Linked DNA regions of Homo sapiens. The protein of the gene in region 1 interacts with the protein of each later gene in a biochemical or structural test. Each region holds a gene or a part of one and is shown in the gene's direction. Other genes may lie near its edges.

Evidence for each region.
Region 2: the proteins of TJP1 (region 1) and FAT3 interact in a test that uses a peptide from one of them, tested with the Homo sapiens proteins (one large-scale study listed by IntAct).
Region 3: the proteins of TJP1 (region 1) and RGS12 interact in a test that uses a peptide from one of them, tested with the Homo sapiens proteins (one large-scale study listed by IntAct).
Region 4: the proteins of TJP1 (region 1) and PALLD interact in a test that uses a peptide from one of them, tested with the Homo sapiens proteins (one large-scale study listed by IntAct).
Region 5: the proteins of TJP1 (region 1) and FMNL3 interact in a test that uses a peptide from one of them, tested with the Homo sapiens proteins (one large-scale study listed by IntAct).
Region 6: the proteins of TJP1 (region 1) and RALBP1 interact in a test that uses a peptide from one of them, tested with the Homo sapiens proteins (one large-scale study listed by IntAct).
Region 7: the proteins of TJP1 (region 1) and EVI5 interact in a test that uses a peptide from one of them, tested with the Homo sapiens proteins (one large-scale study listed by IntAct).

Annotation. Positions count from the first base shown.
Region 1 is NC_000015.10:29,717,969-29,721,468, reverse strand, and holds part of TJP1 (tight junction protein 1), read left to right. Parts: intron 1-760; coding exon 761-1,111; intron 1,112-1,452; coding exon 1,453-1,692; intron 1,693-2,330; coding exon 2,331-3,203; intron 3,204-3,350; coding exon 3,351-3,448; intron 3,449-3,500. UniProt on the Homo sapiens protein: TJP1, TJP2, and TJP3 are closely related scaffolding proteins that link tight junction (TJ) transmembrane proteins such as claudins, junctional adhesion molecules, and occludin to the actin cytoskeleton.
Region 2 is NC_000011.10:92,231,318-92,234,817, forward strand, and holds part of FAT3 (protocadherin Fat 3 isoform 1 precursor), read left to right. Parts: intron 1-3,500.
Region 3 is NC_000004.12:3,296,021-3,299,520, forward strand, and holds part of RGS12 (regulator of G-protein signaling 12), read left to right. Parts: intron 1-3,500. UniProt on the Homo sapiens protein: Regulates G protein-coupled receptor signaling cascades. Inhibits signal transduction by increasing the GTPase activity of G protein alpha subunits, thereby driving them into their inactive GDP-bound form.
Region 4 is NC_000004.12:168,892,052-168,895,551, forward strand, and holds part of PALLD (palladin), read left to right. Parts: intron 1-2,434; exon of another isoform or gene 2,435-2,527; coding exon 2,528-2,626; coding exon of another isoform or gene 2,627-2,714; intron 2,715-3,500. UniProt on the Homo sapiens protein: Cytoskeletal protein required for organization of normal actin cytoskeleton. Roles in establishing cell morphology, motility, cell adhesion and cell-extracellular matrix interactions in a variety of cell types.
Region 5 is NC_000012.12:49,651,906-49,655,405, reverse strand, and holds part of FMNL3 (formin-like protein 3), read left to right. Parts: intron 1-421; coding exon 422-496; intron 497-1,103; coding exon 1,104-1,214; intron 1,215-1,531; coding exon 1,532-1,681; intron 1,682-2,078; coding exon 2,079-2,180; intron 2,181-3,193; coding exon 3,194-3,473; intron 3,474-3,500. UniProt on the Homo sapiens protein: Plays a role in the regulation of cell morphology and cytoskeletal organization. Required in the control of cell shape and migration. Required for developmental angiogenesis.
Region 6 is NC_000018.10:9,524,013-9,527,512, forward strand, and holds part of RALBP1 (ralA-binding protein 1), read left to right. Parts: intron 1-581; coding exon 582-743; intron 744-1,707; coding exon 1,708-1,839; intron 1,840-3,500. UniProt on the Homo sapiens protein: Multifunctional protein that functions as a downstream effector of RALA and RALB. As a GTPase-activating protein/GAP can inactivate CDC42 and RAC1 by stimulating their GTPase activity.
Region 7 is NC_000001.11:92,509,109-92,512,608, reverse strand, and holds part of EVI5 (ecotropic viral integration site 5 protein homolog), read left to right. Parts: 3' UTR 1-3,500. UniProt on the Homo sapiens protein: Functions as a regulator of cell cycle progression by stabilizing the FBXO5 protein and promoting cyclin-A accumulation during interphase. May play a role in cytokinesis.

The DNA of each region.
Region 1 (3,500 bases):
TGCTTCTGGGGAGGCCTCAGGCAACTTACAATCGTGGCGGAAGGGGAAGGAAGCATGTCTTATATGGCTGGAGCAGGAGGAAGAGAGTTGGGGAGGTGCTGCACACTTAAAAAAACAGATCTTGGGAGAATTCTATCACAAGACTGTGTGAGGGAGATGGTGCTAAACCATTAGAAACCACCCCCATGATCCAGTCACCTCCCACCAGGCCCCTCCCCCAACACTGGGGATTACAATTCAACATGAGATTTGGGTGGGAACACAAATCCAAACCATATCAGTTGTTTCCTAAACATAAATATATTAGCTCTTATTCAACTTTTGAACTGTTGGGTTTATTTCATAGGTATTCTTCCATGTGCTATTCTGTCAGTGTGTCCTTGTTTCTGTGAGCTTAGTTTGGTAACATTCTCCCTCTTCCCCTTGCTTAAAAGGGCTGAAGAGCTAGTGAGTAGGTTTTATAAATCTGAGCAGTGTCAGAGTTTCTTCGTTGTCTTCCAGGGCTGGGCCCTGGAGTCTAACTTTGTCCTGGCTTACCGGCCACTGTTTCCTTCATCCATGCCCTTCAGATCTCAAGGGGTGCTCCATGTGTCTGCGTGTGTGCTTGTACAATCTTCTTGACTTTTCCTTACCAGAAGTTTCAAGAAGTAGATGTGACTTCTCCAGAGAAAGATATCCTTTTCAATCTGCCTTGTACGATAAAGGCCATCTCTTAAAGAACTACTGAATAAAATTTGTAATTTACTTTTATTTGACCCAGGCGGATGGTGCTACAAGTGATGACCTTGATTTGCATGATGATCGTCTGTCCTACCTGTCAGCTCCAGGTAGTGAATACTCAATGTATAGCACGGACAGTAGACACACTTCTGACTATGAAGACACAGACACAGAAGGCGGGGCCTACACTGATCAAGAACTAGATGAAACTCTTAATGATGAGGTTGGGACTCCACCGGAGTCTGCCATTACACGGTCCTCTGAGCCTGTAAGAGAGGACTCCTCTGGAATGCATCATGAAAACCAAACATATCCTCCTTACTCACCACAAGCGCAGCCACAACCAATTCATAGAATAGACTCCCCTGGATTTAAGCCAGCCTCTCAACAGGTAAGCAGCAAGCATTCAACGTTTTGTAGATAGAGGTGCATTATTAAATTTTAGAATGTGGTGATTGAGTTAAAAATATATATGTTGTCCTTTCTCCAGATTAAGAATTAATCTTCAATTTCAATTTGAGAGTACCAAGGGCTTAATTCTAAATTTTGTGTGTTTGTCTTAACACAGCAATGTACTGGATTTTTTTTTTTTCCCAAAAAGTTTAGGACATGAGGTCATAATTTTGTTATTCAGCACACTTAAAATGTATGTCTACCAATCACTATAAATTGAAGTGGAAAGTTAGCAGTAAACAGAAACACTATATTTAAAATATTTTAAACACTTCACAGAAAGCAGAAGCTTCATCTCCAGTCCCTTACCTTTCGCCTGAAACAAACCCAGCATCATCAACCTCTGCTGTTAATCATAATGTAAATTTAACTAATGTCAGACTGGAGGAGCCCACCCCAGCTCCTTCCACCTCTTACTCACCACAAGCTGATTCTTTAAGAACACCAAGTACTGAGGCAGCTCACATAATGCTAAGAGATCAAGAACCATCATTGTCGTCGCATGTAGATCCAACAAAGGTACCTGTGCTGCGGTGTTGCACTAATTTGTTGCTGTCCATCAATCTGGCACATGATCATTTTTGCTTTGCCCTTTAAGTGTTCCTTTTGCTTTTTTACTGCAGGCTTATACACTGTAATGCTTTCAAATCAATACAAATCATTTCAGTTTCGTAGTTTGCATGGCTTCCATTGGTATACTGATTATTTGAAAACAGGCCTTTTAATTGAGATTTGTGCTTATTATTTTTATTTTTGGCTTTCAGTATCTTCCAGAATTCCTTAATATGTAATCGAAACCCATCATAAACATATTTATGTTAATACAAATTATGATGCCCATAAATCTTCTTTAGGATTTTTCAGTGTCAAAATGAAGTGTAATCAATAGTGCATTAATTTTCTACTAAATTTAATATTTATCTTTAACTCACTGTTTATTTAGTACATGCTGAAACATAAAAGCCCCTACCTGCATTATAAATTTTGAGCTTTCACTTAAACCAGCTTTTTCCACTAATCTTGTCTATCCTGATAATAAATGGTAAAACATACCATTTTCACATATTAAATCGTAGTTTAATATTTAATCACAGTCTAATAAAATAGACTAGAATTAGAAACAAGACTTTGTCCTTAAATGTGAATTTTTTATACAGGTGTATAGAAAGGATCCATATCCCGAGGAAATGATGAGGCAGAACCATGTTTTGAAACAGCCAGCCGTTAGTCACCCAGGGCACAGGCCAGACAAAGAGCCTAATCTGACCTATGAACCCCAACTCCCATACGTAGAGAAACAAGCCAGCAGAGACCTCGAGCAGCCCACATACAGATACGAGTCCTCAAGCTATACGGACCAGTTTTCTCGAAACTATGAACATCGTCTGCGATACGAAGATCGCGTCCCCATGTATGAAGAACAGTGGTCATATTATGATGACAAACAGCCCTACCCATCTCGGCCACCTTTTGATAATCAGCACTCTCAAGACCTTGACTCCAGACAGCATCCCGAAGAGTCCTCAGAACGAGGGTACTTTCCACGTTTTGAAGAGCCAGCCCCTCTGTCTTACGACAGCAGACCACGTTACGAACAGGCACCTAGAGCATCCGCCCTGCGGCACGAAGAGCAGCCAGCTCCTGGGTATGACACACATGGTAGACTCAGACCGGAAGCCCAGCCCCACCCTTCAGCAGGGCCCAAGCCTGCAGAGTCCAAGCAGTATTTTGAGCAATATTCACGCAGTTACGAGCAAGTACCACCCCAAGGATTTACCTCTAGAGCAGGTCATTTTGAGCCTCTCCATGGTGCTGCAGCTGTCCCTCCGCTGATACCTTCATCTCAGCATAAGCCAGAAGCTCTGCCTTCAAACACCAAACCACTGCCTCCACCCCCAACTCAAACCGAAGAAGAGGAAGATCCAGCAATGAAGCCACAGTCTGTACTCACCAGAGTTAAGATGTTTGAAAACAAAAGATCTGCATCCTTAGAGACCAAGAAGGATGTAAATGACACTGGCAGTTTTAAGGTAAATATGTCTTTAGTGCCTTGGATGCATGGGCACACCGTTTAAAAGGCTTCTTGGCTCTCCCCTCCGCCATTACATGATATCTATTCTGTTAATTATCTGTTCCTTAGGCATATTTGTCTTTTTTTTTTTTTTTTTTTTAAACAGCCTCCAGAAGTAGCATCTAAACCTTCAGGTGCTCCCATCATTGGTCCCAAACCCACTTCTCAGAATCAATTCAGTGAACATGACAAAACTCTGTACAGGTGAGTACACTTTGTGCTCTTTGTGGCATAGAACTGACCAGGAATTTAACCC
Region 2 (3,500 bases), on another chromosome or scaffold:
AAAAAATTTGTAAAAAATGGCTTACAAAGTAACATTAGCTTCCAGAATGTGAGTGAAAAGGCAGACTTTTACCTTGGACGTTCTCTATGACTTGATCCTACTTGTACTTTTCAGAGCAGTTGCAAATAATATTTCAGTTAATTCTTTCTTTCTTTTCTTTTTTGAGATGTTGGAGATAAGCCCAGCTGTTGAATGAGGCACAGTTATGAAAGGTTAAGTGGAAGTTTAATTGTAACTTCAGGACTTCAACTAAATTAAATTCCAAACAATCTGAAAAAAATTGTAGCCTTTTCAGTACCATGGAAGGTCAAAAAGTGAGCACTCTGGAGCAGCTATTGATGTTTTATATTTTGAGATAAGCCCCAAATTATTAATGCTACTAAATATCATTGAACATTATTTGATAATTGTAAACATCTAAGAGTATGCCAGATGACACAGATTAAATTTAGTGACAAATGTGCTTAATGACAGTATAAATATCAGGGTTTTTTTTTTTTGTCAGATAAATTCTATGTAAGTCTGTGTGTGTTTTCTTTCAAAGCAAAATGAGGCTATATCTTGGTAGCAGGATCAGCTTGGTCTTTTTTGAAACCTAGAGCATTTATCACACATGACATTTTGTTGATTTTTTAAGTCTATGTGATCAATATTTTGGACCTCTGAAATCTATTTTTGATTGTGGTTTGAAATTCTCTGTTGGTTCTAAGTGGTGGCTTAATGATAGCAGTTGCTGTTGTGATTGGGTGAGCAGTGTGTTATGTGATTCATGTGGTACCGTCCCATGCTAGGGTGGATTTTGCAGCTAGGGTTTTCTCAGATTGGCCTGGCTATGGAGAACTTCACTGCAAAGAAATGTACACATGAAAGTGGGCCAAATGCAGATGACTTTAACATCGCCCATGTTATGGATAGAATGGGGTGTGAATCTTTCCCACACTTTCCACTTAAAAAAAAAACCTTTGCTAATAACAGTTTCAATCAAATGAATAAGAATTCAGAAGTGTGTGGTAATCTCTCTTGAGAATTTGGTACCTATCTGATAGGACTGTAAAGGCATTTCAGAATGTCAATTAAATGGAAAAATATGCCTGGAATTGAATATAATTAAGAAATGTTGAAGTCTGGTGTCTACATATTCAGACACTGTATAAGATGGTTTAATTAGTGAACAAGGATTTGGATTTATTGACAGAAGGTCTCTTTCTCATGGCATGTTTCACTCATTAAAAGCTCATAATGTCTTGGATCTTTTTAGCTGTTGGAACTTGACCATTTGTCATTTTGTGCTTCTTGACTTCAGTGATGTCGTTTTTTTTTTTTTTTTTTTTTTTTTTGTTTAACTGTGCAACTGATTAGGATGATGTTGCTTCTCTCATTGATGATTATTTCCATGGAGTGGACGCATGGTGTCTTGTAAACATTATGAAGCATCACCAAAGCACTAGGCAAAACTCAGTACCTCTGAAAAACAACAATTGGGAGGTAGAATTATTATTGTGGAATTTTTGGCCTAGCAACTTAGAAGTAATTAGAGTAACTTCCTCTTTATAACTACTAGCTTTATATTATATTTACCTGATGGCAGAATTTACATTTAAATTCACATTTCTCTACATCTCTCTCAGTTTTTCAGTTAATGGTTTATTAGTTTAAATCCTTTTTATTCCTGACTGTTGGGCTGAAACAGTTTCTAATCATACAGAAGACTGAAATTCTTTTTTAATATTCTTGTTGTTGGATATATTTCTTTTTGAACTGCATTTGATGATTATAAGTGCCTGAAAGAACTGCAGTTAGTAAAGAGAGAACTTGGGAATGTTGACAAGTGAGGTAGGGAGAAACATGGTTCAGTTAGTCCTTGAGGATTTTTCATTACCTGTTTATAACTTAGATTTTGGCTGTCTCCTATACTGGTACTAATGTGAACAGCTACTTTATAAGATTTTTTAATTCCTCATCTTCATAGGTATGTTCTCTAAGTCAGAGCTATTTAAAGTAATCTAGCGTTCCATCTTTCCTGTAGACATAGCAGATCATTCACAGTCTGGTTGAACTAAGTACACATTACATCGTTGGTCGTTTTGGTGGCATGTGCTGGGTTCTTCAGGCCCGTGTCATTGTTGGCAAAGTATACTAAGAGTGCTACTATTATCTTGGACTAATTTTTTCATGGAGCATATTAAATAAATGTGGTGTCTGACCCTTCAAAAGTTAGCTTCCTCACCTGAGTGATGTTCAGCTAAATAGGTATAAGTCGTAATGTATGTGTGATCCTAAGTCAGTAAGATGGTGAACTGAAGTGACATCATCTGCTTGGAAGTCCCTGGATTAACAATGGGACTTATATTTATATTCAGAAGACAACTGCTACAATGAGGAAATTGGGCAATCTAGGCAATTGAACAATTGAATGGGAAATGTAAGACAAAACATATTATATTGCCAGATCAATTCCCTAGATCTTGTTGAATTATACGATAATTAGATAATCTTCTTTTATTTGGAAGTGTACATTTTGTAAGTGTAATAACTTGCAATAATCACTTTATTCCTAAGTTGTATTCAGCAGTGCACATGTTGTGTTCAGTTTACATTCTGCATATTTTTGTTAAATAGGTAGTATTAATAACATATTTTACCTCATATCCAAAGAGAAAGAGGGAGATGCAGGTATTTTGAGATTTATCACTTTCATACAGCTCATCAGTGGTTACTATAATAATCCAAGTGAATAAACCTAGATTGTTCTTTATACAATAGATATGTTTTTAAACATTGAGTGTAAATGACATTTTTCAAAACAAATCACATCTTAAATGCTTTCAACTAGGGAAAATACACTCTTTATTTAAACAGATGTGGCAAATTATTTTTATAAAGTAAATAACAATTTGTCTCTCTTACATTTATCTGTTTTTTAAGTTTAGATTTTGTATATTAAATTTCTCAAAGAGATGCAAGAGTGTATACATATTGGAAATACGTTTTTGTTCAAATATATAATAAAATGAAAGAGTTTGACCTTCTCCCTCAGTACTGCTTTGACGAGAAGTGGCATCAGAGGGGAAAATAAAGGGAGAAGATGGAACTAGAATGAGAAAAAACAGAAATGTCCACCTAGTTTATGGAGATGTTGAGGAAATGTTAAAGTTTAAGAATTTCTGGGCCAGGAGTGGTGGCTCACGCCTGTAATCCCAGCACTTTGGGAGGCTGAGGCAGGCAGATCACCTGAGGTCAGCAGTTCGAGACCTGCCTGGCCAACATATAGTGAAACTCCGTCTCTACTAAAAAATACAAAAATTGCCAGGCACGGTGGCTCATGCCTGTAATCCCAGCATTTTGGGAGGCCGAGACCAGTGGATCACAAGGTCAGGAGTTCAAGATCAGCCTGACCAACATGGTGAAACCGTATCTCTACTAAAAATATAAAAATTAGCCAGGTGTGGTGGTGGGTGCCTGTAATCCCAGCTACTCAGGAGACTGAGACAGGAGAATCT
Region 3 (3,500 bases), on another chromosome or scaffold:
CAGTCAGCTTCTGGAGGCTGGAGGAGAGCCGTTCACCCCCCTGGTCAGCTTCTGGGGGCTGGAGGAAAACTGCCCCCCTGGTCAGCTTCTGGGGGCTGGCCTCATTCCTTGGCTCCCGGCTCCTGCCCTGCCTCCATTGTCACATCGCTGTCTTTCTCCTCCTCTTTATTTTCTCCTTTTAGAGACAGGGTCTCACTTTGTTGCCCAGGTGGAGTGCGGTGGCACAATCATAGCTCACTACAGCCTTGAACTCCTGGCTCAAGCCATCCTCCTGCCTCAGCCTCTTGAGTAGCTGGGACCCCAGGCATGTGCCACCATGCCCAGCTAATTTTTTCTGTTTTTTTTTTTTGGTAGAGATGGGGTCTCACTATGTTGCCCAGGCTGATCTTGAACTCTTAGCCTCAAGTGATCCTCCTGCCTTAGCTTCTCAAAGGGTTGGGATTGCAGGCACGAGCCACCGCGCCTAGCTTCTGTCTTCTTCTGCCATGTTCAAATTTCCAGGATAATCTCCTTGTCCTGGGAGCCTTAGTTTACTCACATCTGCAGATCCGTATTGCCGTATGGCTTTCACAGTCCCAGGGATTAGGGCCTGGATATCTTTGGGGATCGCTATTCAGCCTACAGCAGGCTCCTCACTTGTCTTCGAAATGACTTCACTTTTCCCATTGTGTGCGAGGAGCACCCGTCTCATGCCTCTTCTCTGGGATGGGCAGGGTTTGTCCAGGGAAGGTCCCTGTGGTTTCACTTCCCTGCCCTTGGGGAGAGGCGGGAGCCATCCTGGAAACAGGTGTCCTGGGAAGGAAGACAAGCCTTGCTCAGGATGCAAGCCCCAGTCATGAGAGGTTGTGGGAGGTCACTCATGCTGTGCCTTTTTAGGAGGTGGGGTCGTTACCAGTTCCAAACTGGATACTCCACACAGTGCTCATGCAGTTTTACCTGTGGTTTTGGGGGCCACCGTTGCAGAAGTTGCCTAGATTCTTCCATGAAGGAGCCTCTTGCCTCGGGCTCCGGGCAAGGAACTCTTGTGTTAGAAGTTCCCTTCTTCTGTGTCTTTTAAGGTCTGGACTTCAGTGAAAGAGAAAAGAAACATCTAGTTTGTTCTTTCTGTTTTTCTTTTCTTTCTGCTTTTCCATGCACTTGCTGTCCCCAACTCTGTAATCATGGTGATACCCGATACGCATACACACTCTACTCACATATCTTTTCCTACATCTTTGTGTCCCTTAGCAGTGATCTTAGTTGTCCTTCCAGCATGCCTGAAAAAGGGCTGAGTCTGTGGATTGAAGCGTCCAGTTGTAGGCATTCTCCTGCCCTGCCTGGCCGCAGCCCCCAGAGGCGGGATCCTAAGTGGTCTGTTTTCTCAGGCATTTACTGCTGTTGAAGCTGCTCCTTTAAAGCTTAAGACATTCTTTTTTTATTTCTCCCAAAGGCCGTGGGGAGGTTTAGCTCTCCTCTGTCCCACCAGCCTCCCTGTCCCTCTATGTGCCATCATAATCACTGCATTTTTGGTGAAATCGACAGTCCTTGCTCTTGTGTGACTGTAAGCATTGCTCATTACTGCGCCAAGGAGTGCCCTGAGCACAGGTCCTCTCGCACAGCCCTGTGGATTAGCATCTTCTAGTCACCCACCTATCAAAATGGTTTGTTTTTCATTGCATCCAGGACACTAGCCCCATCCCCACCCCTTTGGGATTGGAGCCTTCTCCCTGCTCTCGTTTGCCCTGGTCTCCAGGAGACCTGCTGCGCCGCTGTCACCTGCATTTCCCGCTGCTGTCCTCCATCTGTGGGGCTCCCTGTGCACTGGGTCCTGCTCTTCTCTCTCTGCTTGGCTCACTCCTCGTTTTGCTGAAGTCCTACTCTTTTGATACCTAAGAAACATCACATAGGTATTTTTTTTGGTCCTTGATTTAGAAAACATCTTTATTTTACTCTCCAATTACCTTTTAACTTAGCTGGGTATAAAATTTTAGACAATGATTTTTTCGGAATTTTGAAAATGTTGCTTCATTGCATTTGGTTTCTGTGCTGTTGAGGTCTGACGCCATTCTGATTTCAGTTCTTCTGTGTGTGATCTCTCCTGCCTCAAGCTCATAGAAGCGGCTCTTTTCCCTCAGTGTTCTGAGAAGCCCGATAATGGCATCTGCTTCCGTTTATTGTGCTGGGCACTCCGTGGGCCCTTTCAGTCTGAGGATAGAAGTTTTTAAATTTCAAAGATAATTTTCTTTCAGTTTTGCTGTTTTCTCTTTCTGGAACTTTTATTTGGAGGTTGGACCTCCTAGGTTGATCCTCTAATTCTCTTTTTTCTCATCTTGTTGATCTCTTTGATGTTTGTTCAATTTTTTTTTTAAGAGACGGAGTCTCACTCTTTTGCCCAGGCTGGAGTGCAGTGGTGCAGTCATAGCTCGCTGCAGCCCCAAACTCCTGGGCTCAAGCGATCCCCCTGCCTCAACCTCCTGAGTAGCTGGGAACACAAGCATGCACCCCCACAACTGGCAATTTTTACTTTTCATTTTATTTTTTCATAGTCTCGTCATGTTGCCCCTTTGCTGTTTCTAAGAAGTCAGTCACTCTGGTAGCTGCGTTGCTCCTTTATGTTATATGATGAGGTGCTTTCAAGCTCCTCCTGGGATTTTTGGCTTCCAGCAGTTTGATTGTGATGTTCTTAGGAGGGTTTGCTTTGTATTTGTCCTGCTCAGGGTTTGTTGAACTTCTTGGATATGTAATTTTTCACCATCTTCAAACTGCTATTAAGTTTCGTGCATTTTAAAATTTCAGTTACAGTAGTTTTTATTTCTAGAATTTTCACTTATTTTTTATGGTTGCCATTTCTCTGCTCTGTCATTTGTTTATTGTGATCATACTGTCATTAAATCTTTGAACACATACTAGCGGCTTTAATGTTCTTTTCTGCTAATTTCAACACCTGCATTACCTCAGGATCAATTTCTATTGGCTTCTTCCAACTATGGGCCACATCTTCCTGTTTCTTTGAACATCTAGTGTTATTTGATGGTGTACTGGACATTGTAGATGGTAACTGTAGTGACTTCTTTTTTCTGAAGAGTGTTGATTTTTGTTCTGGAAGTTAATTTGTCTGGACTCAAATGAAAATCTCTGCTGCAGTCTCTGCTTGGTGCTGTTGACCTTCCGGCTGCCTCCTTCTGCTGGACTCTGGGGTCTCTCTGTGCATGGATGGCTCACCACTGGCCAGGACCTAGGCAGAATTTACTAACAGATCTCACGACTGCCTCTTCCCCAGTGACCTCCTTTCTGAGATATGCCCCTCACTGTTCAGCCACCCAGCCCTCCCCAAGCCCTATCTTGGACTCTTCAAGCTGGGAGGATCACAACTTCTACCTGTGCTCTAGCCATTTTTAGAAACACTTGTTTTAGTTGGTGCAGCTCTCTCCTTTCAGGGGACAACTCCCCTCCACTTTCTGCCTGCTTTTCATAGCTCTCCAGGACCTCCCAGAGTTGGTTTTTGTGTCTTGTGTCTGGTT
Region 4 (3,500 bases), on another chromosome or scaffold:
TATATAGATAAGATGTTTTCTCCACTGGATTTAAGTCTTTCCTCATCAGTTTTTGTTTGTTTTTTCATCTCTTTTGTTGATGCTATCCTTTTAAAATACTCTTTTCTTTTTAAAATACTATTTCCAGAATATTTTAAGGGGATGGGAAAAGCAAATCTAGAAAATAAGACTTACCAGGTAAAGGAGAGGAACCTTCTGTAGCTTTATTAAGGAATTGTCACTGGAAAAATTTGCCTGGCTCTTAAGTACAAGACAAGGATCTTTTTGTATAAAATCTCCCTTTCAGACACCTTTTTCAGAGTAGAAAGCTCTCTATAATTATGTTTTCTGAGAATTTTAATTATCAAACATTGATAAGTAAAACTGTGAGAACAGACCACACTTGAAAGCTGGAGAGCAGAGGAGGGGTGCTGAATGCTGATTTTAGTTTATTAGGGTATCTTAATCTGATTAAGAAAGATTAAAATTTCAATGAAGTTTTGTGTTAGTTACTCATTTCACTGAGTATAGAAGATTTTCACAAGAGGAAAATATTTTCTCCCTGAAATAAGTGATTGCATGTGTAAATGTACATACTCTGGAAGTTTTCCCTGGCTCTGTCAACTAAATCTTTTAAAAGATTAAAATAAATACATATGGGAACTTTTTCAAGCCAGGTAAGGCATCACTCCAGCTTTTTTTTTTTTCTTTTTGGCTGTCTATGTCAATGTTCCTTATGAACTAAGATTCTCTTGGTTAAGGTAAGACTTCCTTAAGCTATTGGTCAACCCACATTATATATATTGTATGTATATTTATATTCATCTGTTTAGCAGTGAATAACATTCACAGTAAGTTCCACAGGTATCCACACTTGAGAGCTTAAAATGACAAGTAAGGTTTCCCTTTTTAGAAAATGGGATTCTCAACCAACTTTTTCCTAATATTATATATCATTCTCTTTCTTATCTTTGGTGTCTGTAGACACGGGCTTTTATAGCCAGATGGCATAGTGACTTAGAAAAAAAACTGTGAAGTATATTTGGCTTCTAGTGGTAGCAGGTGCATTCTGGTGAAGGAATAGATATGAAATTGATATTTCTGCTTATAAGGAACAGAGTGAAAATCACTCCAGGCCTGCCTTTGATGTGTTACAATTCTCCGTGAAAAGATTAGGGAAGCTTTTTAAGAGATCAGGTATTTAAGACTCTCTTTGAAAATTGAATTCACTGATTTTTTAATAGGTGTGAGAAAATTAATTTAATAACATAGTGGACTCAGATGCTTCATGCCGCCCTCAGACTCCTACCTCTGCCTCTTCTTGTCCTCTGACCTTTCTTTATTAAGTGAAATAATTTGAACTGCAGGACTATTTGTCATTTGGCACTTGACTTGTTTCACTTCCCGGTTTCAGCTGGGATTGAGATCAGCAATTACTGGAAATTGTAAATTTACCCAACATATTTTCCTGATTAGAGAGCTTCCAATCAAATTTGCATTTATATTTAGAAGTTTGGAAGTTTATCTGAAATAATTTCTGTACATTTTTTAGATTCTGCCTTACCAATTATTCTCTATTTCTAATCAAACACTTGCTTATAAAATGCTCCCGATGAGGCAGGTGGTATCTGAAAGTTCCTTCCAAACCTGTAAGTCTAAGGCACTTTAGAATGAGTATTCAAGAGCAGGTATCACCCCAACAGTCACACAAAAATGCCGGCATTTCTTATGTATAAGAATGGCATAGGTAAAACGGTTTGGGCCAATTCCAAAGTGCTAGCTGCGAGATGCAAGAACACTACCACTTTCTTTGCCTGATGGGCAAGCAGTCTGCTTCTGGGTCAAGTCAATTGAGGCTGTTAGCTTTGGCAAGTGTCTTGTGTAATCCTGTTGCTAATTCAGCCATGTGCATCATTCTCTGTGGATTATAATAGTTGCCGCCAATCCCCTACATTACACAGCAGCCTGGGAAATGCTCTTAGAGGTAAGAACCCCATCACTGCCAGCTCATCCACATCTTCCTTTAGCTAAACATTTACTGAGCACATACTGTTAAATGACTGATAGAATTATTTCCATTAGCGATACCTGTTCTTTTTTTAGTCAGTTTATTCTCCTTTTGAGTATCTTTGTTTTTTCTTTCAGTCAGTATTAGAGCTGACTTGGGTGTTCTGAAGCTGATGGATGGCTATAAAAATAACATTTCTTTTAAATTGTATTTTGCTGTTTAAATATCTTTTTTTCCATGTTTTTCATTAAGGACATGACAAATCTTTTCTGTGTGGTTTCTTCCTTGTCGCTTATTGCTCACTTTAAATTTGTGCTGTACCAATTGGTGGCTCTCTGGATTAGGCCATTAGTACTAGAAAGGGAGGTAAAAAGGTAGAACAACTGAAGCAAGAAAAAGAAATATGCAGGTATCTGAAGCTGGAGAGAGAACACTTACAGAAAATCATGAAAGTGTGTTGTTTTTTACTCTTTTTCATAGGGCAGTACATATTTGTGATTTTTTTCTAATTTTGTATTTTTTGTGACTTACGTTGTTTAGAGGTTAACATACGAAGAAAGAATGGCTCGTCGACTGCTAGGTGCTGACAGTGCAACTGTCTTTAATATTCAGGAGCCAGAAGAGGAAACAGCTAATCAGGTACCATGTTGCTCTGGACTTCTTAGGGTAACATTTATTCTGTCCCCCTTTTCCATCTTCCTTATGGATACTGTTCTTGGGATGAGTTCTGTGGAAAGTAGAGGGCAAGTCACAGAAAAGCAGTATTAATATCATCAGTCAACCTCACAGCTAATTTTTATTGAGCACATACTATGTTAAGTGACTGACAGAATTCTTTCCATCAGTGATACCTGTTCTTTTTATTCTTCTTCTTGATTATTCTCCTTTCCAGTACATTTCCATTTTCCTATCCTAAGTTTTATGCAAAATAATTTTGTGTGGAGAAACACATTTTCGCCGACATTGTCTGAAATAACTAGTGAATATTTCCCATTAGAGTTGGACCTTGAACAACACGGGAGTTAGGGGGACCAACCCCAAGCACAGTTAAAAACCCACATATGGCCGGGCACAGTGGCTCATGCCTGTAATTGTAGCACTTTGGGAGGCTGAGGTGGGTGGATCACGAGGTCAGGAGATCGAGACCATCGTGGCCAACATGGTGAAACCCCGTCTCTACTAAAAATACAAAAATTAGCCAGGTGTGGTGACGCACACCTGTAGTCCCAGCTACTCGGGAAGCTGAGGCAGGAGAATTGCTTGAACCCGGGAGGTGGAGGTTGCAGTGAGCTGAGGTTGTACCACTGCACTCCAGCCTGGCAGCAGAGTGAGACTTCGTCTCCAAAACAAAACAAAACTAAAAACACATATACGACTTTTGACTCTTCAAAAACTTAACTAACAGCCTACTGTTGACCAGAAGCCTTACTGATAACAAAGAGTTGATTAACACGTATTCTGTATGTTATATGTATTATAGACTGTAGTCTTAAAGTAAGCTAGAGAAAAGAAA
Region 5 (3,500 bases), on another chromosome or scaffold:
GGCTGGAGTGCAGTGGCACAATCTCAGCTCACTGCAACTTCCACCTCCCAGGTTCAAGCGATTCTTCTGCCTCTGCCTCCCAAGTAGCTGGGACTACAGGCATGTGCCACCATGCCCGGCTAATTTTTGTATTTTGAGTAGAGATGGGGTTTCACCATGTTGCCCAGGCTGTTCTTGAACTCCTAACCTCAGGTGATGTGCCCATCTCGGCCTCCCAAAGTGCTGGGATTATAGGTGTGAGCCACCGCGCCTGGCCCCAGGTTTTCTTTTATAGTGTCCAGAATGGCCTATTTCATATATAGAGCTGTGGTTAAGCTTGGTCTGAACCAGTCCTTTGCCATGATGTTCCTAGGAGCCAGAGCGCAGGGGCTTGGGTTCTGCATGGAGCAGATCCTTTCACTGAGAAAGTTTGCTCATTCAGGTATGCAAGGAGCTGCACCGCTTTGAGAAGCTGATGGAGTATTTCCGGAATGAGGACAGCAATATTGACTTCATGGTGAGGAACTGGGCCTGGGTCCAGCACATACCCACCAGGGCTGTGTGTGTGTTCCTTGACAACAGGGGTGAGGCCAACAGCGTATCTTGATATTCCACGTAGAGCCCAGAATGATTCTATTCAGCAAATGCTTCTTGTCCACCTGCCTACCCCAGAGAGCTCTTAGAAACTTCAGGATATCATTTGTGTATATCAGATCTACCTCCTTTTCCTCTTTTCTGTGGCCTTTTTGTCCTTGAATTGGATCCTTTTTGAGCTGCCCTCCCTTTCCTAAGCTCTTCCTCTAGCTTCTCTTCCCCTCACTGCAGGGTCTTTGGCTAGGTAAGGTTGTCTCGAGGAATACCTGTTGATGTACAAAGGAAATCAGATAGCTATATCTTCACTTACATCTGTTTTTCATGTAATTTACTTGTCTTTATACACTGAATATTAAATGACATTTTTAAAATTAAAATACTCTTATTGCCCCCATAAAGACTTAACTCTTTAATTGACTCCCTGTAATTATCCACATGATGATGATATTCTAACAGCCGCCTATCCTCCTGGTCTCTTGCCTTTCCTCTGCCCTTCCTGTTGCTGCTTCTCTGGGCCTCCTCTTCTTCAGGTGGCCTGCATGCAGTTCATCAACATCGTGGTGCACTCGGTGGAGGACATGAACTTCCGGGTCCACCTGCAGTATGAGTTTACCAAGCTGGGGCTAGAGGAGTTCCTGCAGGTGAGCTGGCTGGGGTCCTTGTAAGGTGAGGTGCTTTGGGATCAGTTTAGCCGTATCACAAATGATTTTTCTTTTATAAGTGCCTAATCCTTGATGCTCCTGGGACCCTGCCTGTCTTCTGTAGCCTGGGACTCAGGACCTCTGCAGCTAACTCCCCAGTCAGGCAGCTCCATGGGGGCGAGAATCTGACATGGCCTGCAGCAGGAACTCTTTGGGAAGTGGTGGCGAAGGGGGATGAGGACTAAGACTTTCTCAGAAAGTTCCCCTGATGATCTGCCTGCTCCTACAACTACTCCTACTCTCTGCTCTTCCCCCAGAAGTCAAGGCACACAGAGAGCGAGAAGCTGCAGGTGCAGATTCAGGCATATCTGGACAACGTGTTTGATGTCGGGGGTTTGTTGGAGGATGCTGAGACCAAGAATGTAGCCCTGGAGAAGGTGGAGGAGTTGGAGGAGCATGTGTCCCATGTAGGTGGTCTTCCTTTGCCTGCCAGAGCCACTGTTGATGGAAGCTCAAGTAACCAGGAATCCTGAGCTGACCCATTTGCCTCCAGATTGAGTCCCAGGGAGGCTTTAGAACCCACCAGGGCTCTCAAGAGCATACTCAGGCCTGAGCCACTGGATCATCCACCAGTTGGAATACACATCGACCTCCAGGGCTGGGCATGAGGTGGCATTGGTCTTGAGACAGTCAGAATGTGGCCTTTGTCTTGTATCTGTTATTGGAATATAAGGGAACCACCTGACTAAGCTGCCTTTGTGGCCTTGTGTTGAGGGGTCCGACTCAGGTCTTGACTAGGGTTCAGGCTGTGCTGAGTGCCCAGGCTTTAGGGCCAGCACAGAACCTGCCCTTCCTGTTGTGCAGCTCACAGAGAAGCTTCTGGACCTAGAGAATGAAAACATGATGCGGGTGGCAGAACTAGAGAAGCAGCTGCTACAGCGGGAGAAGGAACTAGAGAGCATCAAGGTACAAGTACTCTGGGGAAGGCAGTCCCTGACTGATCCTGGGCTCCAGCGCCTTGGGGTTCTGCTTTTTTTCCCTGAGTCATATCAAGTTCTCTAGGATTTAGATCTTGATTCACCCTTGAGGTACTCAGGTGTGGGTGGGCTGATGATTTCACCCCATTTTTTTAGTTGGAGAGGAAAGGTGGGGCCAGTGTGAGCCAGACACACACATAAGAGGGTGGGAACAGCTGGGGCACCCACAAGCATTCTGGAGTTCCAACCCAGGCCTCCTCCTACCAGCCCATCCCATTGATTTTTCTCCCCTCTACCCCCGTGTTCCTCCCCCAGCCATGTTTAATGAGCAGGGGCAGAGTGACCAAGTGCTCTGTGTATTAGGATGTCCACCAGGTATCCTAAATTGGCAGGGCAGGTACTCTTCATATTTCATTCTCTTCTGTATTTTCTCCTGACTTTTTGTTCATTATAAAGTCATGCCCCCATCCTACTTTCTCTTTCAGAAGAATATATGCTGGCTCTGTTGAGCTCAATATGTATCTGCCCAGCTTCTGCTGAGCATTGTATTGGGAGCTATGGAGGATACAGAGATGGTTAAGACAGGGTCTTGTTTATAGGGGGCTTCCAATTGAGCCATTATACAAGGCCAAGTGAAATTAAAGCAAAATGAGGCCCAAAGGGTTATGGAGAGAGCCGCTATGTCAGACCGGTGGTAGATTAAGGAGAGTTTCACAGGGGCAACCTTTTTTCCTGGGCTTTGAGGGGCCCATGCAGTGAGAATTGGCTGGAGCAGAGAGGACACTTCAGGGTGCCAGCGGAGGGAGGCAGCTTCTGCTTGCCTCTTTTGTTTTGCTGCCTTCCAGCTTCCTCATTCCCCCACCTGGGTTTCTGCCACTCTGAGCCTCTGAGTACCCTGACAGAGACCCTCGTTAAGAGAACCCTGGGTAGGAATTCTCACTCTTGGGGCAATGACTATGCCTTCAGCCCACTTTTCCCTTAATGGTGCTGTCTGCCTGCCAGGAGACATATGAGAACACAAGCCACCAGGTGCACACCCTGCGGAGGCTCATTAAAGAGAAGGAGGAGGCCTTTCAGCGTCGATGTCATTTGGAGCCAAATGTCCGGGGCCTGGAGTCTGTGGACAGTGAGGCCCTGGCCAGAGTAGGCCCTGCAGAGCTGAGTGAGGGCATGCCACCCTCCGACCTGGACCTTCTGGCTCCAGCCCCACCCCCTGAGGAGGTCCTGCCTCTTCCTCCACCACCAGCTCCGCCCTTGCCCCCTCCACCTCCCCCATTACCAGGTAACCACGACGACCCCTGGGAGCCAA
Region 6 (3,500 bases), on another chromosome or scaffold:
TGGGTAGATCATTTGAGGTCAGCAGTTCGAGCCCAGCCTGGCCAACATGGTGAAACTCCGTCTCTACTGAAAATACAAAAAAATCAGCCAGGTATGGTGGCACACGCCTGTAATCCCAGCTTACCGGGGAGGCTGAGGCAGGAAAATCGCTTGAACCCGTGAGGTGGAGGTTGCAGTGAGCTGAGATTGTGCCACTGCACTCTAGCCTGGGCTACAGAGCGAGGCTCCATCTCAAAAAAGCACCACCACCGCCACCAACAACAAAAAACACACAAAAAATAAGATGTTTAAATCAGTTAATACTGTGATAGAAAAAATAAACAAATGGATGGCATCAACTTCTCTATCCTTTTCTTGACTTTTTTTCCCTTCAGATCTTTCTGGTGCTTGAATACATGATTTAACTCATATTTTACCATTTTCTTCTTAAATTGGCTATTAACTAGCAAAGACTGTGTTGTCATTACTGGGTAGAATTTTCTTTATGTGTCCAGGATTAAAGGATATATTATGTAATAGACACAAATAAGTGAAATAGAATGATAGTTTTAATGGTTTTCTTGTAAATCTTTTTTTCTTAGATCAGCAATCGAGTCCTGTATGTGTTTTTCACACATGTGCAAGAACTCTTTGGAAATGTGGTACTAAAGCAAGTGATGAAACCTCTGCGATGGTCTAACATGGCCACGATGCCCACGCTGCCAGAGACCCAGGCGGGCATCAAGGAGGAGATCAGGAGACAGGTGTGTGCACCCTGCCTGCCACAGCCTGCCTCTGCATTGGCTGTTGTGGAGTCCAGTGGTGATGGGCTCTTGTTTCCTGAACACTTTCTGTGTGTCTGGAGCTATGTTAGGCACACTGAAGTCAGAAATTCCCATCTGGTACTGTTTCATGCCAAATAAGTCAGAATACCATGGTGGAAAGAGCATAGTTTTTGGAATCAAAACACCTGGCTTTAAATTCTTGCTCTGATCTAGTTAACTGATTTTAGGCAAATTCTTAACCACCTTAAGCACTGGTGTTCTTGCTTTAAAATGGATCCTCTTATAGGATTGATGTGAAGATTACCCCAAATGAGATAATATATGAAACATGCCAGGCACGTTGTAAATAGTCTAAAGATGTTTGCCTTTTCTTGACAAGGTTGCTGTCATCAGCCATATTTTATAGATAAGAATATTAAAATTCAGGGAAGTTAAGTAACTTACCCTGTGTGACATGATTACTAATTACAGACCCAAGATTTGAGCCCAAATCCTGGGATTTTTTACTGTGCTATTTTGATGGAAGTAACAATGCCGTGTGTGTGTGTGTGTGTGTGTGTGTGTAATTCAAGACTAAATAAGAAAGTTAATTACATTTGATTATTTATTTGCATGCAATTTATCAAACCCCTGCTTGCTTTTCTTCCCTTGTATCTGCCCTGAGCTCCCAATGCTTACTAGTTAATGATGATGACATTGGAGATGGGGATGTGGATTAAGTATTATTGAACCAATACAAATTAGTGAATAATTAATAGGCAAAACAATAAGAATGATTTTTCAATCATATCTTCAAAAAAATAATTAGTGCCATTATTTTACTCTAATGAAATAAAGGATAATTGAAAAATAGTTGATTCTTCATCTTTAGAAATTGCACGTGTTGTTAGTTTAAGATAAGAGGATATGAAATGCAACTAGGTGTGTGGCATTTGCTTTCTAGGAGTTTCTTTTGAATTGTTTACATCGAGATCTGCAGGGTGGGATAAAGGATTTGTCTAAAGAAGAAAGATTATGGGAAGTACAAAGAATTTTGACAGCCCTCAAAAGAAAACTGAGAGAAGCTAAAAGACAGGTGAGTTATTATTTTGATACCTAATGTTTATAATAGAATGTGTTTGAGTCTTTTATGTACTTTATGTACTCTTTTTTTTTCTTTCTTTCTTTTTTCTTTTGATGTTGACCAGGGTGGTCTCAAACTCTTGGCCTCAAGTAATCCTCCCACCTCGGCCTCCCCCAGAGTGCTGGGATTACAGACATGAGCCACCACCCCCAGCCCAAGTTCTTTCTGTTAAGAATATTATAATGTCACTTGAAGTGAACTTCTCTGGTGGGACATTTATTCACTAAAATGTTTCTAGTCCTATATTATTGATATTGCAGCCTGGTGTCAGTCACATGTTTCAGTGTAATCTAGAAAGTTTTTTTTTTTTTTTTTTTTTGAGACAGGATCTTGCTCTGTCACCCAGGCTGGAGTGCAGTGGCACGATAATGGCTCACTGTAGCCTCGACCTCCTGGGCTCAAGGGATCCTCCTACCTCAGCCTCCTGAGTAGCTGGGACTACAGGTGTGCGCCACCATGCTCGGCTCATTTTTTATTGTTTGTAGAAATAGGGTCTTGTTATGCTGCCCAGACTGGTCTCAAACTTCTGGGCTCAAGCAGTCCTCCCACCCCCCAAAGTGCTAGGATTATAGGCATAAGCCACCATGCCTGGCCTAGAAAGTTTTGTTTTAATTAAAAATGATTTTACTAAAAAATTTGTCATTTCCTGCTTGGTTATACCTGTAAACAGGGCTTTCTATGGATGAAAAACAGGCTGGATGGTGACACACCTTTGGGGACTGCTGGGGAATTTAAGGCATTTAGAATTAGTCAGCTCTTTGGAAATGTAGTGATGAGGGTCACCTGGAAGGCCTTGAAGATCAGGAGAGATTCTATTTATGTAATAATAATAAGAGTGGCCTGCAATACCTGATGAGTTTAGGGTATGCCAGTCAGACTTTTGAGTTCCCTCTTGTTTAGTGTGTGTTGCTTGGTTCTGGGACTGTGAGTGTACCAGCCACAGCAATGGTAAAATCCCAGATCTCTGGATCACCTTAAAATCCACATTGCAGATCAACTGCAGCATCTAAACAGCACATCCAAGGAACATTAGTTAGCCCTTGCCTGAATTGGGGAACATGATAGTAGGTCTCTGTTGTGGTTGTGTTAAAGAGACAAAGACAACCTGAATACTTCTGTTTCTTTGAGGTTAGAGATTTGTATTAATGTGGAGGATAGCTTTGTCACACGGGGCACATTCATGGGACTTTTACACGTGCGCTCCAGGATATGTAATGTAGCAGAAGCCCTCTGCGTATTTTTCTTCCTTCTTTTTCCTAGCTCACTAGGTTATCTATCTCTTGCTTCCTTTACGTGTTTTTTGTTTTTGGTGTTGGTGTTGCTGTTAAAATTTTCCCTTCATGTCTCAGCCTAGAATCAGGTATTAGAGATGGACCACTCAGGCTTCAGGGGCAAATTGTAATTGTTAATCATATGGCATTGCCAGTCAGCCTTTAAATGAAGAGTCCCCTGACTGACCTAGGACAGGGCTGATGGAGGTTTGGCTTTTGTTTCTCTTGCTTCTACATCTTGCCTAAATAAAGGAATCATGGTATAGCAGCCAGAACCAATATAAGAAGGGATGGATTAACTTTGCTTTACCGATTTTCCCGATGCTATGTTTTCACGCCAGC
Region 7 (3,500 bases), on another chromosome or scaffold:
TTTATAAATCTGTACCACCTAACATTGAACATCATTTTATATGAAGAACATACATGTTGCAAAATGACTGCTTTCAGCATCTAACAGGACTTCTGTAAATAATAGGTTAAAAGTTAAAAATAAAACACTAATGTTTTAAGAGCTTTAGTATTTTGCTTAGCATTCAATACTAGCAGATTCATAACTGATGCCTGTTCAAAAACACTGTTGGTGGAATCTTTTATTTCATGTGTATGTAACTACTAAATTTTTCATGACTGAAGAGGTTATAGCACATATTAGTTAGTGCTAATATTCTACTGAATATAATTTAAGCAATGGGCTAAGGTCCAAGAAACATAGCAATTATATCTACAAATAATCTATTAACATGATCTTCAGAATCTCTAGTTTTTGTTCTATAGATAAAGCCATAAGAATCCTTTCCTACCAGTTTTTCCTATATCATTTAGATATTATTTCCTAGAAAACAGGATGCCTGTCACTGATAAGTTAGAGAAAACACCCAAATTATACTTGCACTATGGAAAGACGACATGAATATGTTGACTGGGTACTTTCTACTCTCATTTTTGTTAGCCTATGAAAAAAAAAACATTTTGTTAACCTATGGAAAAAGCCTTGGAAGAGAAAAGTAGAATTCAGTATGTATGGAGGCACAGTTTTGCACAGTATGTTGCATGCGGCAAAAAAAAAAATATGAAATAGAGTAGAAGAGATAAAAGTAGTTTTCTGTCAAAAACTAGGAGTTAAGCCTTCAGGTACGTTGTGGACTAGGCTTTCCAGCAAGGTTTTTGTAGCTATTTGCTTGCCTGAGAAATGAAATTGAAAACATACCCCTGCGTGTCTGTCCTTAACACCAGGCTAAATTCTGGTGGTTAAATAACTTATCTGTGGTTACAAGCTAGTAAGTAGCAGAGCCAAGATTTTTTTTAATATAGAGACAGGTGTCTCACTGTGTTGTCCAGGCTGGTCTTGAACTCCTGGCCTCAAGTGGTCCTCCTGCCTCAGCCTCCCAAAGTGTGGGGATTACAGGTGCGAGCTACTGCTCCCAGCAAGAGCCAAGATTTTAACCTAGATCTCCCTAACACCAAAGCTTTTGAAAGGGTTCAGCTGAAGAATTTCTCAATTCTCTGTTTTGTTTTGTTTTTATTTTTGTTTTTTGAGATGAAGTCTCACTGCACTCAGGCTGGAGTGCAGTGGTACGATCTTGGCTCACTGCAACCTCCACCTCCCGGGTTCAAGCGATTCTCCTGCCTCAGCTCCCAAGTAGCTGGGACTACAGGTGCACGCCACCACAACTGGCTAATTTTTGTATTTTTAGTAGAGATGGGGTTTCGCTATGTTGGCCAGGCTGATCTCAAACTTCTGACCTCAGGTGATCCACCCACTTTGACCTCCCAAAGTGCTGGGATTACTAGACGTAAGCCACCACACCTGGCAATTCCCTGCTTTTTTGACAACATAATTTAAATGAATTTGATTTAAATGTTTCCTGAATATATATACAGATAGATAGATGAGTATCAACACTTACAAGCTCTACACAGTCTGTGAGTGTAGATACTACTTACTCGTAGGATTGTCTTGTGCTTTGGGGATTTTTGTTCGGAGTTCTATACTATCAGCCCAGAAAGCTATCAATGTCCAAGTGAAGTGAGATGATGCATGGCCACATTATTGCTTTGACCCTCACATCAAGAAATCTGAATGATCTGGACCAGGGGTCAGCAAAGTGCAGCCTACAAGCTATTGCAGTCAGCTGCCAGTTTTTACTTTTTTAAATAGTTGGGAAAAAAATTCCAAAGACTGATATTTTGTGTCACATGAAAATTATATGAAATTCAAATTGCAGTGTCCATAAGTAAAGTTTTATTGGGGCACACCCATGCTCACCCTTTTAAATATTGTGTATGGCCGCTTTGTGCTACAGTAGCAGAGTTGAGTCATTGCAAGGGAGACCATATGGCCCAGGTAGCCTAAAATATTTATCTGATCCTTTACAGAAAAAGTTTGCTAACCCTTGATAACAGATACTCTAAAATGCAGGTTTTTCTTCTTCAATTTAGCTCAGTGGTAGGTCAAATTGTTTGCTTTTGCTATTAAGCTTATGATTTGGAAACGTAAAATTTCATGGTGGATATTATAATCAGAACTATTCAAAAGGGAAAACATGCCAGCCATTTTATATGATGAAGTCTCTTATTCCATAGAAAACTGTAGAAAGATATCTGTATCTTTGGAGAAGGAGAAAGAAAGGAAAGAACTCCAGAATCCCATCACTGTTCTTTAAAGCATGCATCACAGACCTTTAAGAGTATGCTTTATTGAGTAAAGGTTATAGTTTGACTTTAAGATAAGAAATTTTCTAGAATCATGTTTGAATTCTAAACGTTGATATTCTTAAGTACCATTTCTGATTAGGAATTAGGTGTTAAAAGAATCATGGTAAGGAAACCTTAATCCGTTGAAACTCTTGTAATTTGGACAACAAAAAACTAGAAATAACACTCTTTTCTTTGAAGATCTGATTCAAATACACCTTAGAAGAGTTTAAAATCTCCCAGGCCTTTAGGATGCAATAGGATATTATGCCTTGGTTTGACTCCTTTTCATTCAAATTAATGTAAGTATGTTGTTCAAGACTTTGAAGCATTGAACAATGTTCTCGATGAATTTTATTTAATTACTGACATTTTGTGATATTTGAATGTTATTAAGTTAAACACTTAGAGTTGAGTATATTCAGGGGAGAAAAGTGAATGAAATGACTCATAATAAGAAAGCTTGCTCCCTTGGGACAGTTACCTTCCTGGTGTCATTGCCATCCTGGGTTGACAAGCTGAGAGTAGAGGATACAAGTGATGTGAATAAAATGGAAATTGCATTGAGTTAATGAAACAGACACTTTTAGATCAAGAAAACACTTCAACAGCCTTTTTAGAAATTGGCACACTCCTATAGTCCCACCTACTCAAGAGGCTGAGGCAGGAGGATCACTAGAGTACAGGAGTTTGGGGCTGTAGTGTGTAATGATCACACCTGTGAAAGAATAACCACTGCACTCCAACCTGGGCAACATGGCAAGACCCTGTCTCTTTAAAAAAAAAAAAAATCCTGGGAAAAGAAGTCAAAGATGTAATTTTACACAATTTCTGCCCCCACCGTCTTTTTTGTTTGTTTGTTTGTTTGTTTGTTTTTTGGCTAGATACTAGGTATTCAGTGTTTGCTGAGATGACAGGTTTCTACTAATCAGCCAGTTATTTGGGAAGGAGAAAAACTTTTTCTCAATTCTGAACATGATGCAGCTTGTTAACTCTCCAGATAGTGCCTTTGATTGAAAATAAGGTCTACACCTTTTTAAGTATATTATTTCTGACATCGTAAGAAATAATTTAGTTCCTTATTCTCATTTATCTTTTATATAATGTACTGTAATATTCAGGTTTAAAGTAAAATAAGTATATGAATTATATTTTGGTAAAACTGTTTCATGACCA